Regions from separate parts of the Homo sapiens genome. Here region 1 is linked to region 2. Evidence: fine-mapped expression QTL. A gene starts in region 2. The other region holds a variant in brackets. All regions are shown on one strand. Distances are from middle to middle.

The links. PIP is the estimated chance that this variant, and not a neighbour inherited with it, causes the effect. A credible set is the group of variants that fine-mapping cannot tell apart.
Region 1: its variant is the best candidate, but not a certain one, in a credible set for the expression of ZBTB5 in esophagus mucosa (GTEx, PIP 0.83).

The regions. Positions count from the first base shown.
Region 1 is chr9:37,437,564-37,442,793 of GRCh38, reverse strand. ZBTB5 (zinc finger and BTB domain containing 5) reads left to right here. Exons shown (of 2, transcript NM_014872.3): 2 at 239-4,692. The coding sequence starts at 243. The coding sequence ends at 2,276. It also overlaps a transcript of GRHPR not described here. Among named protein-coding and RNA genes, the nearest start is that of GRHPR, 17 kb to the right of the region's middle. The variant C/GTTTC (reference allele first, on the strand shown) is at 3,006.
Region 2 is chr9:37,462,342-37,467,571 of GRCh38, reverse strand. ZBTB5 (zinc finger and BTB domain containing 5) reads left to right here and starts at 2,122. Exons shown (of 2, transcript NM_014872.3): 1 at 2,122-2,357. RefSeq lists enhancers at 457-1,142, 1,143-1,828, 1,829-2,514, 2,515-3,200 and a silencer at 2,195-2,294.

The sequences.
Region 1 (5,230 bases), 25 kb after region 2:
TAAAGGGGAGCCTGTCGGTAGCTAGGCCCACATGTGTGCATGCCTCCTGGGCTGATGGCTGAATTGCCATTTGCTTCTTATATGACAAGCTCTTAGTGTATGTGCCCATTATCAGAGATATCACGGGCTTCAAAGGTCCAAGCTTGGCCATCCATTCCACTCTTTTCATCATACCCTTTGTGTTCTGACTTTGAAGCTTTTCTAGGTCTTAACATTTTCTTTCTTTGTTTTTCTGTAGGATCATGGATTTTCCTGGTCACTTTGAACAAATCTTCCAGCAGCTGAACTACCAGAGACTTCATGGCCAGCTCTGTGATTGTGTCATTGTAGTGGGGAATAGACACTTTAAAGCCCACCGCTCCGTGCTGGCAGCATGCAGCACGCATTTCCGAGCCCTGTTCTCAGTGGCAGAAGGAGATCAGACCATGAACATGATCCAGCTGGATAGCGAGGTGGTGACAGCAGAGGCCTTTGCTGCACTGATTGACATGATGTATACCTCCACCCTCATGCTGGGGGAGAGCAATGTAATGGATGTCTTATTGGCAGCCTCTCACCTGCATTTGAACTCTGTTGTTAAGGCATGTAAACATTACTTAACGACAAGGACGCTGCCCATGTCTCCCCCCAGTGAGCGCGTTCAGGAGCAGAGCGCCCGCATGCAGCGCTCCTTTATGCTACAGCAGCTGGGACTAAGCATCGTGAGCTCAGCCCTCAATTCCAGCCAGAATGGCGAGGAGCAGCCAGCCCCCATGAGCTCTTCCATGCGCAGTAACCTGGATCAGCGCACGCCCTTCCCCATGAGACGCCTTCATAAGCGCAAGCAGTCTGCAGAGGAGCGGGCCAGGCAGCGCCTCCGACCCTCCATAGATGAGTCTGCCATTTCAGATGTTACACCGGAGAATGGGCCTTCAGGGGTTCATTCTCGGGAGGAGTTCTTTTCACCAGATTCTCTGAAAATTGTGGATAATCCTAAAGCTGATGGAATGACTGATAACCAGGAAGATAGTGCGATCATGTTTGATCAGTCTTTTGGCACTCAAGAAGATGCCCAGGTGCCCAGCCAGTCTGATAACAGTGCTGGCAACATGGCACAGTTGTCCATGGCCTCTCGTGCAACTCAGGTTGAGACTAGTTTTGATCAGGAAGCTGCACCTGAGAAAAGTAGTTTTCAGTGTGAAAACCCTGAGGTTGGCCTTGGTGAGAAGGAGCACATGAGAGTGGTGGTTAAATCTGAGCCCCTGAGCTCACCTGAGCCTCAGGATGAAGTGAGCGATGTGACCTCACAAGCAGAAGGCAGCGAGTCTGTGGAAGTGGAAGGAGTTGTGGTCAGTGCCGAGAAGATAGACCTCAGCCCTGAAAGCAGTGATCGGAGTTTTTCAGATCCCCAGTCTAGCACAGACAGGGTAGGTGATATCCATATTTTGGAAGTCACAAATAACCTAGAGCATAAGTCCACTTTTAGTATTTCGAATTTTCTTAACAAGAGCAGAGGAAATAACTTTACTGCAAATCAGAACAATGATGATAATATTCCAAACACCACTAGTGACTGCAGGCTGGAGAGTGAGGCCCCCTATTTGTTGAGTCCAGAGGCTGGGCCTGCAGGTGGGCCCTCCTCTGCCCCTGGCTCCCATGTAGAGAACCCATTTAGTGAACCTGCAGACTCCCACTTCGTCAGGCCTATGCAGGAGGTGATGGGCCTGCCGTGTGTGCAGACTTCAGGCTACCAAGGAGGAGAACAGTTTGGGATGGACTTTTCCAGGTCTGGTTTGGGCCTCCACTCCTCCTTCTCCAGGGTAATGATAGGTTCCCCAAGGGGAGGAGCCAGTAACTTTCCTTACTACCGCCGCATAGCTCCCAAAATGCCAGTTGTAACTTCCGTCAGGAGCTCACAGATCCCAGAAAACTCTACCAGTTCTCAGCTAATGATGAATGGAGCTACGTCCTCATTTGAAAATGGCCATCCTTCCCAGCCTGGCCCTCCACAGTTGACCAGGGCATCTGCAGATGTTCTGTCAAAGTGCAAGAAGGCCTTATCAGAGCACAATGTTTTGGTTGTAGAGGGAGCTCGCAAGTATGCCTGCAAAATCTGCTGCAAAACTTTTCTGACTTTGACAGATTGCAAGAAGCACATCCGTGTTCACACAGGTGAAAAGCCTTACGCCTGCCTGAAGTGTGGCAAGAGGTTTAGTCAGTCCAGCCACCTGTATAAGCACTCAAAGACTACCTGCCTGCGCTGGCAGAGCAGCAATCTTCCCAGCACTTTGCTCTAGCTGTTTGTCCTTACAAGACAACGCTGAGGCCAGTTGTCAGACTGAATTTCTTTTGGTAAGCAGTTAATGCCTTTGGGTTCGAGGCTTCCAGCTGCCCAGTGGCTCTTAAACAGTTTAGCAACTAATAACCGGAGAACTAACATGTAGTATTTGTGCTGCTGCATTTCTGAGTGAAGTGCACGTCTTGGGAAAGGGATGCAATCCCTGAAACCAGGTGCTTCCTTGGGGTTGAGTAATGCAGTCAGAAAGTAGTTTGTAATTGATATTAAAAGTGGCACATTTAAAAATTTAAAAATTGAAGTGCAAAAAAAATTTTTTAGCAATTTTTGTAAAACTGTGTAGCATTTAAATTTCCTATACCTTCTGATGGGAGTATTATATCCCTGTATAGTGATGCAAAATGCACTTATGTGTAACCAGTGGTGATTTGGTGCCTGTCTTAAAGGAAGGCCTTTGAGGACACACCTGTCTGCCACAAATGCTTTAAAGTGTATCATGAGCTAGTCCTAGGCCTCAAAGTACTGTATTTTTTATTTTTACCTGATTTGCAGTCATAAACACTGCACTTTGGTGCTGACACTGGGTCCAGAGTGAGCATTCTCTTGGACTATTAGATGTATATACTTTTGAATACATCACTGTTGGATAGATGTTTTAACAGTTTTTTCTGGTTTAAAAACCAAATTGTAAATGGAGTGTGTACTTGTAGAGAGTGACAAGGTATTGTTT[C/GTTTC]CCTATGTGCTGTTTGAGCAGTATTTTAACCAACTTGTATTACAGATGTTACAGTTCCATGTTAGGAAGTCAGAAAAGACTTGTGTTTGTCTTTGTTCTGCTGATGTGGAGTCATGTTTTGTGGGGTCTTCCATGGCACATTTACCTGTTGCTCCGTCCAGATGTTGAGGGCCAGTCTAGGCTGACACATCCTACCCGAGGACAAGCCTGTTCTCCATTTCTTCACTCTCCCCTCCCCATATAGCAACTCTCCCAGGTTTAGATTACCGTTTTCGACGACAGATTAACCAAAAATGCCCCACACAGGTTTTATTACTGTTATATACTATACTTTTAACAGTACAGACCCTAAATTTTATTATTTGTTGCTCCCCCAATCTGATACCAAATGTTTAAAGTTGTTTGAAATCCAAACATGGTAGTGTTCATGGGTAAATATTTTCTAGGCTATGTAAGAGTTAGCAGCCCATAGCATAGAAGTAATCAAGTAGCATCTGAGACTGTTGGAGGCACTAGGGCCTCTCTGGGCCCTACAGCCTCACTTCCCCAGCCTCACCTTGCTGTCCTCTGACACTGCCATCAGGGCTGTTAGTGGCACCTGTATGAGGCCAAGTGTGCGTCCAGGGGAACAGCACAGGTTAATGCGTCTCCCTAGAACTCATGAAGTCAGTTTAATTCATGCATGAACATGAGTTCATTTTATGTTTTATATAGCTTTCTTAGACATACCAAACCATCATTCATAAATCAGATAAATTATTCAGTTTTTGTGTTTAGAAAGCTAAGTATGTGTAGCTGGAAACAAAAATGAGCGTGTTTTCTCTCCTGTTAATCTAGAGTGTGCAGTTACACATGTGTGGATAATTTCATGTTCCAGGGGCGCTTGGCATCTCCCATGGACTGATTCCCAGGAAGAAAAGCCCAAAGGGAAACCCACGATTCCTTTCGAGTAGATGTGGGAAAGAGCCCATTGGAGGATATGAGGTCCTGTGAAATTCAGTTGTGTGTGTGGCTCCTTGTTAGCAGTCATGTTGACATGGTGTTAGGAGGCTCCCCATCCACCCTTTACATGATGTAGGGACCAGTGTCTTGTGAGATTAACCTTGGGACACAGTGGGTTAGCCTGGAGAAAATGAGAGGCCCTGCCTGGACCCAGGGAGAGGAGCCAGTGACACAGGCAGAGCGGTGCAGCCCTCCTTCCCTTCCATTTGGAGGAGGTGGTGCCAGGAGCCTGCCCGCTTACCTCTGCTGAAGCATAAGTGGACTTTGCTTTTGGGGCTTATCTCTGATACATGCTGGAGCCCTGCCTCTCCACTGCTAGATGGAACCTGGAATCTCTCATCTACCTCTTAGTCTGTCAGTTTCTACGTGTGAGAAGCAAGCTTGTGGGCCAGTGTCCTTGTACATGCTGTAGCACTTAAAAAATAATTCCAGGGTTCCCTGGAAAACCAGTCCCAGGGTTCCTATGATCTGTAGTTTCTACCTGGATTATAACTGGTTTTGGGTACCTGAATTTTGATTGGTTAGCCTTAATTATAGTCTGGCGTGATCATGTAGAATCTTTTCTGGTGAACAGATCATAAAGTTCTATCAAGGAGTTCTATCAAGGCATCCATGTCAGTGGTGCTATGCTGGTTACAACTTGAGATTTTTGAAATAAAAAATTTGTCATATTCATGCCTCTAAATATGTGTTCTTTTTCTTTACGTTATTAAGGTTGAAACCAAAGAGGGTAATATCTCTTTGCCAGCCCTTCTTTGACTAGTACTTTGTTTTAAACCAAACCTTCTATTAACAGTTAATTGGTCGTTCCTCTCAAATCATTCCCTTCTGCCTTCCCCCGCCTTTTCTGTCTTTGAGCTACGCACATGCATGAGATTTTGCTTTTCAGTCTACCCAGTTGCTCTCTGAGGGCCTGCGTAATCTTGTGCTGCTCCCTGGACCTGCCTCCCAAGTTGGAAACTCCATCTGCCAGTTTGGCTTGGCTGCTGGGAAGAGCTGGAAGCTGATTCCTTGAGCACAGAGCAAGGCATTGGCAATGGCAGTGCTGTGGCCTGACCTTGGAGAGAAGTGGGTAAGGTGGTGATTAAAAAAAAAAAAAATCCACCTGGGGGCAGGGAGGGGCTGGGGGGACAGAATGGGCAAAGGGAACAATATGTGTAGGTGCTGAAACTAATTTTAAAATTAAACCCACCTACCTCTAATCGTTCTGACCAAAATAAGAG
Region 2 (5,230 bases):
TTTGTAATCTTCTTTAGTTACACATTTAGGTTTGTTGTCCACTTACCCCCCCCCCCCCGCCCCTTGTACTTACAAAGGTGTGGTAAACAGCCTTGGGTTTATTATTCCACATCTTTGTATTTCGGTAGCATATATTTCTAGAAAGGAATTACCATCTAGAAGGGAACAAATGCATATTTTAAATTTTGATAGATACTACGAAGTGATCGTCAAACAGGGCATCAGTGACACCCCCGTCCACAATATAGCGGGTGTCCACTTCCACACACTCCTAAATTCTGAATATACAATTTTTAAAACTTTTGCCAGCCTGTAAATCTGAGGCAATCTAGGTCATGGCATTTACCGTTGAGAGACAGATACGCAAAAGAATCTCTCCTATTGCCTGGCTTACTGTCATCATTCCATATTTTCCTTATTTTACCGATCAATCTGTCAGTAAAATATGTGTGATGGCTATAGTGTCAGCGAATCTTAAGGAAAAGAATTAAACATCAGACTCCACCGAGCCCTTAAAGAAATCCACGCAAACAGGTTGCTTTTTGAAATCAACACTTCCGACCAGTAACTGAAGGGATGGAATCTGCTGTAGGGGTATTCGGTGTGTTCCATTCTTAAAGCGGGGAGTTCCTTTTTTTTCCCCCCAGACGAAATCTCACTCTGTTGCCTAGGCTGGAGTGCAGCGGCACGATCTCAGCTCACTGCAACCTCCGCCTCCCGGGTTCAAGCGATTCTCCTGCCTCAGCCTCCCGAGTAGTTGCCTGGGATTACGGGCGCCCACCACCACGCCCGGCTAATTTTTGTACTTTTAGTAGAGACAGGGTTTCACCATGTTGGCCAGGCTGGTCTCGAACTCCTGATCTCGGGCGATCTGCCCGCCTCAGCCTTCCCAATTGCTGCGATTATAGGCGTGAGCCATCGCGCCCGGCTGGGAGTTCCATTTTTCTGGGAGCTCCTCCAAGACCCTTACCCCCACCCCCAGAAGAACCCAGCTGAGTTCGCGGGCCTGCCTTTGTCTCCAGAGCCACGCAGCGCTCCCAGACACGCTGCGCCGGAGAAGGCAGCTTTCTTCTGCCGTCCTCACCCTAGGAAAGGGGGTTTCTTCCCTGGCCCCAGTGTCCGATGCTCAGGGATCGGGTTCTCCCTCCGAGGGTGCACCTGGAAACCCGAGCGTCGCCCCGGGGCTCGCTTTTTTCAGACCGCGTCCCATACAAGTCCGCGACCCTTCCACGTTTGGGACAGGAGTGGGAGAGCTTAGCGCTTCCTATTTTTTTGTGGGGGGAGTGCAGGTGATTATAAATCTGGGCATGCAGACTACAGGCTTATTTGACCTGCAGCCGAGTGCGGGGCCAAGCGCCGGGCTCCTGGGGCGCCACCGTTTCCAGACGCGCAGCCACCCGGACTGGACGAGGGGCGGGGTCCGACCTAACTGCCATCCGATGGACAGCGTTTTTTATTCGCGGTTTTCACCCTGGACTTTGGCTTAGTTAAACCTAAAGAGCTTTTTGGAATCTTATCTTTCCCAACGTCTATGAAGTGGGAACTCAATCTCCAGCCCTCTACGTGTGTGTGTGTGTGTGTGTTCAGCGAAGGGAATTCACCCCGGAGAAGAGCCCTGGGTCACTAAAGCGCCGGGCACCACGAGGGTGGAAAAATCCTTCAGAACCAGCCAATGGCGGTACGGCCTGCCCTGAGGGCCCGCCTCTCCGGCGCCCTCAGACATCACGCAGTCGTTGTTGTGATTGGCGGATTTAGGCGGAAAGCCCGCTAGCCTAAACCACAGAGGGTTTTGATTGGTTGCAGCGAACAGCCGCATTTCTATAGTCCAAACCTGGAGCAGTTTAGTGATAAATCCCGCCCTAAAAGGCATTTGATAACCGTTTTACATGTTGTAAGGCAAAGGGTGATTGGTCAGAGAGCTCACGGATTCAGTCGGTAGTAAACACAACCAGACTTCAGGGACCGTGGATTGGTCAGTTTTTCCGGGGGCTAAGTAAATTCCTCCAGGTTCCGCGCGCCGGCTGGCTGCACTCCTACCCCGGCCCCGCCCTTCCCATTGCTGATTGGTTGCAGCCCAACTGGGAGAGGCGGAATGGGGCGGAGTAGGCGCTCTTGCATTACGTCACTTCCGCTTATCCTCGGGCGCCGCCGCCGTGTTCTCAGAGTGCTGCGGCGAACTGGCTGGAGGAGCTAGGGGACTAGAGGCGGGGTGGGAGGGGGGCGGGTGGAAGGGGGAGGAAGTCCCGTAACGGAGACGCTGGTCAGGACGTTCCCACCTCCTCTGACACTGCCGAGTCCGATCGGAGAGGGGTCACCGCCTCCTTCAGCGAGGAGGAGGGGGGCGGAGCCCGACTCAGGTGAGGAGACCCCGTCAGCGAGTATCGTGATGGCGGGCGCGCTCACGTGGGGAAGGTTGAGCACCAGGGGCGCGCCAAGGCGTCGGGGAGCGCGCAGACGTGTACTGGTGCCCCCGGACTACTCTGGCTGTCTTTCGGAGGGGAGCATTGTTACCGTTGGAGCCAAGGGGCCAGGCGGGTTCTTCTGCGCAGGCGTCCCCGGTGTCCCGACGCCAGGCTGTCTGCGGGGTGGGGCGGGGGCTGGTACTCCTGTGGATCCCCGGCTGGCGACGTAGGTTCCCGAATGGGGTGGGAAAGGCCTCAGGACCAGCGGCCTGGCGGGATGAAGAGAGGATCTGCTGCCCTGCGGGATGTGGTCGGACGGCTCCCTTGCCCCCATCCTGGGTCTTGAGCGACGAGGTTTCATTTCACCAGAGCAAGGCCATAGGCAGACTGCCATCGGGAGCCAGCGGCCGACCCTGGAGGGGTGGAGCCAGTGTTTCGGAATGCCCCAACTTGTTATGAGAGGACTGAAGTGTTTAATAGGCATTTATTGAATGCCCACTACTCCCAGGCTTCGTGCGAGGAGCTGTGGGGGATGCGGTGGTAAGACACTGCCGTCCCATCTTCTCCTGTTTGGAGGACAGATTTGTATGTAAATAATAAAAGGCAGTGAATTAAGGGGTGTTGAAGGTTAGTTTTTTCCTTTCATAATGGTCATTTTTTTTTAAGTCAGTCAGCATTCTGGCATAGTGAAGGATATTGTGGAAACTAATTTTCTGAACAGAAGGCAAATCCTAAATAATTTGGAGGAAAAATTTTAGGTGAAAGCACAGTAAAGTTGATTACTAAGTAGTATCTTCTGACTCTAGTTAACTTGAATTAATAGAAGGAACTCTTCACCTTCAAAAATTGAAGCAAAAATATTCCAAAACATGTTCTCATATTTTTCACTTGTATTAAGTAGAGGACATTACGGGCTTTTCTTTAGAGGTTGAAGAGAATGCTGTGCCTTAGTCATTAAGTCATTGGTAATTTGTTGTCCTAGTATGGGCTGTTGTGCTTAGATGTAAAAGGCTGGGCAGAACTTGCTTTTCATTTGCCTAAACTCTTGTGATTTCTGTGGGGACGGTGGTTGGCAGTAAGCTAATAGTTCAGAGGGAAAAGTCCAGATGGGAAGAAGACAAGGAATTTTAGAGAAAAGCCCCTAAGCCAAAGGAAACCGTTCACTCTTCCTTTTAACCCTTATGGAAATCTCATCAAATTTGGGAAGATTGACCTGGCCACCACAGCCAGCTTGGTGACCTTACAGGTAAGACTACTTGGGTGGGGACCTGTTTTGGGCCCTTGGGTTTTGCTGAATAAACAGACTCTTTTTTTGAAGAGTCCTGAAGTCAACTCGTTTACTAGAGATTTGCCCCTTTTCCCTAAAAGTTGTGTCAAAACATAACTTTTAGTTAGCTGAGGATGCTGGCAAGCTGGATTTTGGTTAATTGATATGTCTCTAGCAGAATTCTGAAAATGGTAAGATTTGGAGGAAAGGCATCTTACAGACTTAGGAGCGAACGCTCTCAAAAGAGACTCACAAGACTGTCCCCAAAGTGGAAGTAATAAAAAATCACTGGGATATCAAATAGTACTTAAAGAACTCAGCATGAATTATATCGAATTGGAGACTTTAAAATATCTTGTGTTCAGTGAAATTGACAAAACCTGGTGTAGTGCTGACAGAGAATCTTGAATCTGGCTCACATTCGTTTTGGAAATGGAAAAAAGAACCCAAGGTATTGATTCTATGTTAGCTTTCAACTTTTTTTTTAATGTAAATTAATTTTAAATACTTTCCCCCTCTGTCAGTTTTAAGCGTGTGATTTTTCTTTTACTGTACGTAATATTTCTCAAATATGGATGTTGTCTAGTAGAGCCAGTTTTGTTAGTGTAGCAGGTGGGATGGAATGTAGCACTACACTATGCCTTTTGTCTAAGTATGAAGTGAACTTCTCATCTCCTAAAAGACCAGCTGTTTCTGAGTGAACTATTGCTCTTTGCATATGTTCTCATCATTTTCACCACTGAATAGTAGCTTTTAATTTCAAGATCCAGTTTTAGAGGTGCCTTTCATTTTATTAGTTATACATGTATTTCCTAAAAGCTTTGATTTATCTTGACATCCCAAACAGATTAGGTTACTCTGACAATTCGAAGGGTGAGGAGGGCAGAGAAGAATTTTATTGAGTGATGGAACAGCTCTCAGAGAAGAGGGCATGCAGGGGGTGGTCTCTTTCCCAGTGTGGCTGGTTCCGGGGCTTCTTAGGGACTCAGAATGGGGAGTGTGTGCTGATTGGTTTCTGATGCAAAAAGTTTAAAGGGAAGGCCGGGTGTGGTGGCTCACGCCTGTAATTACTGCAATTGGGGAGGCTGAGGCGGGCAGATTGCCTGAGCTCAGGAGTTCAAGACCAATCTGGCCAACATGGTGAAACCCTGTCTCTACTAAAAATACAAAAATTAACCCGGCATGGTGACGTGCGCCTGTAATCCCAGCTACTCAGGAGGCCGAGGCGGAAGAATCGCTTGAGCCTGGGAGGCAGAAGTTGCATTGAGCTGAGAGCATGCCACTGCACACTTGGAGTCTTGGAGACAGAGTGAGACCCTGTCTCAAAAAAAAAAAAAAAACGGTTAAAGCAAAGACACCACTCAAAGGTGGGCACGACAGTGTAGAAAACCAATTAGGAAAGGGGTAGATATATGTAAAATAGGTGAAGGGTGGGGATCAGTCAGAGGAAAGCATGCCAAATGGGAACACAGGTTCTCAATCTGGTCCGTGGATTTGACTTGTAGCTTGGCTTTCAAGCTTTTAAACTGTCTTCGGCTTGGAGGTGGGGTTTCACTGGGGA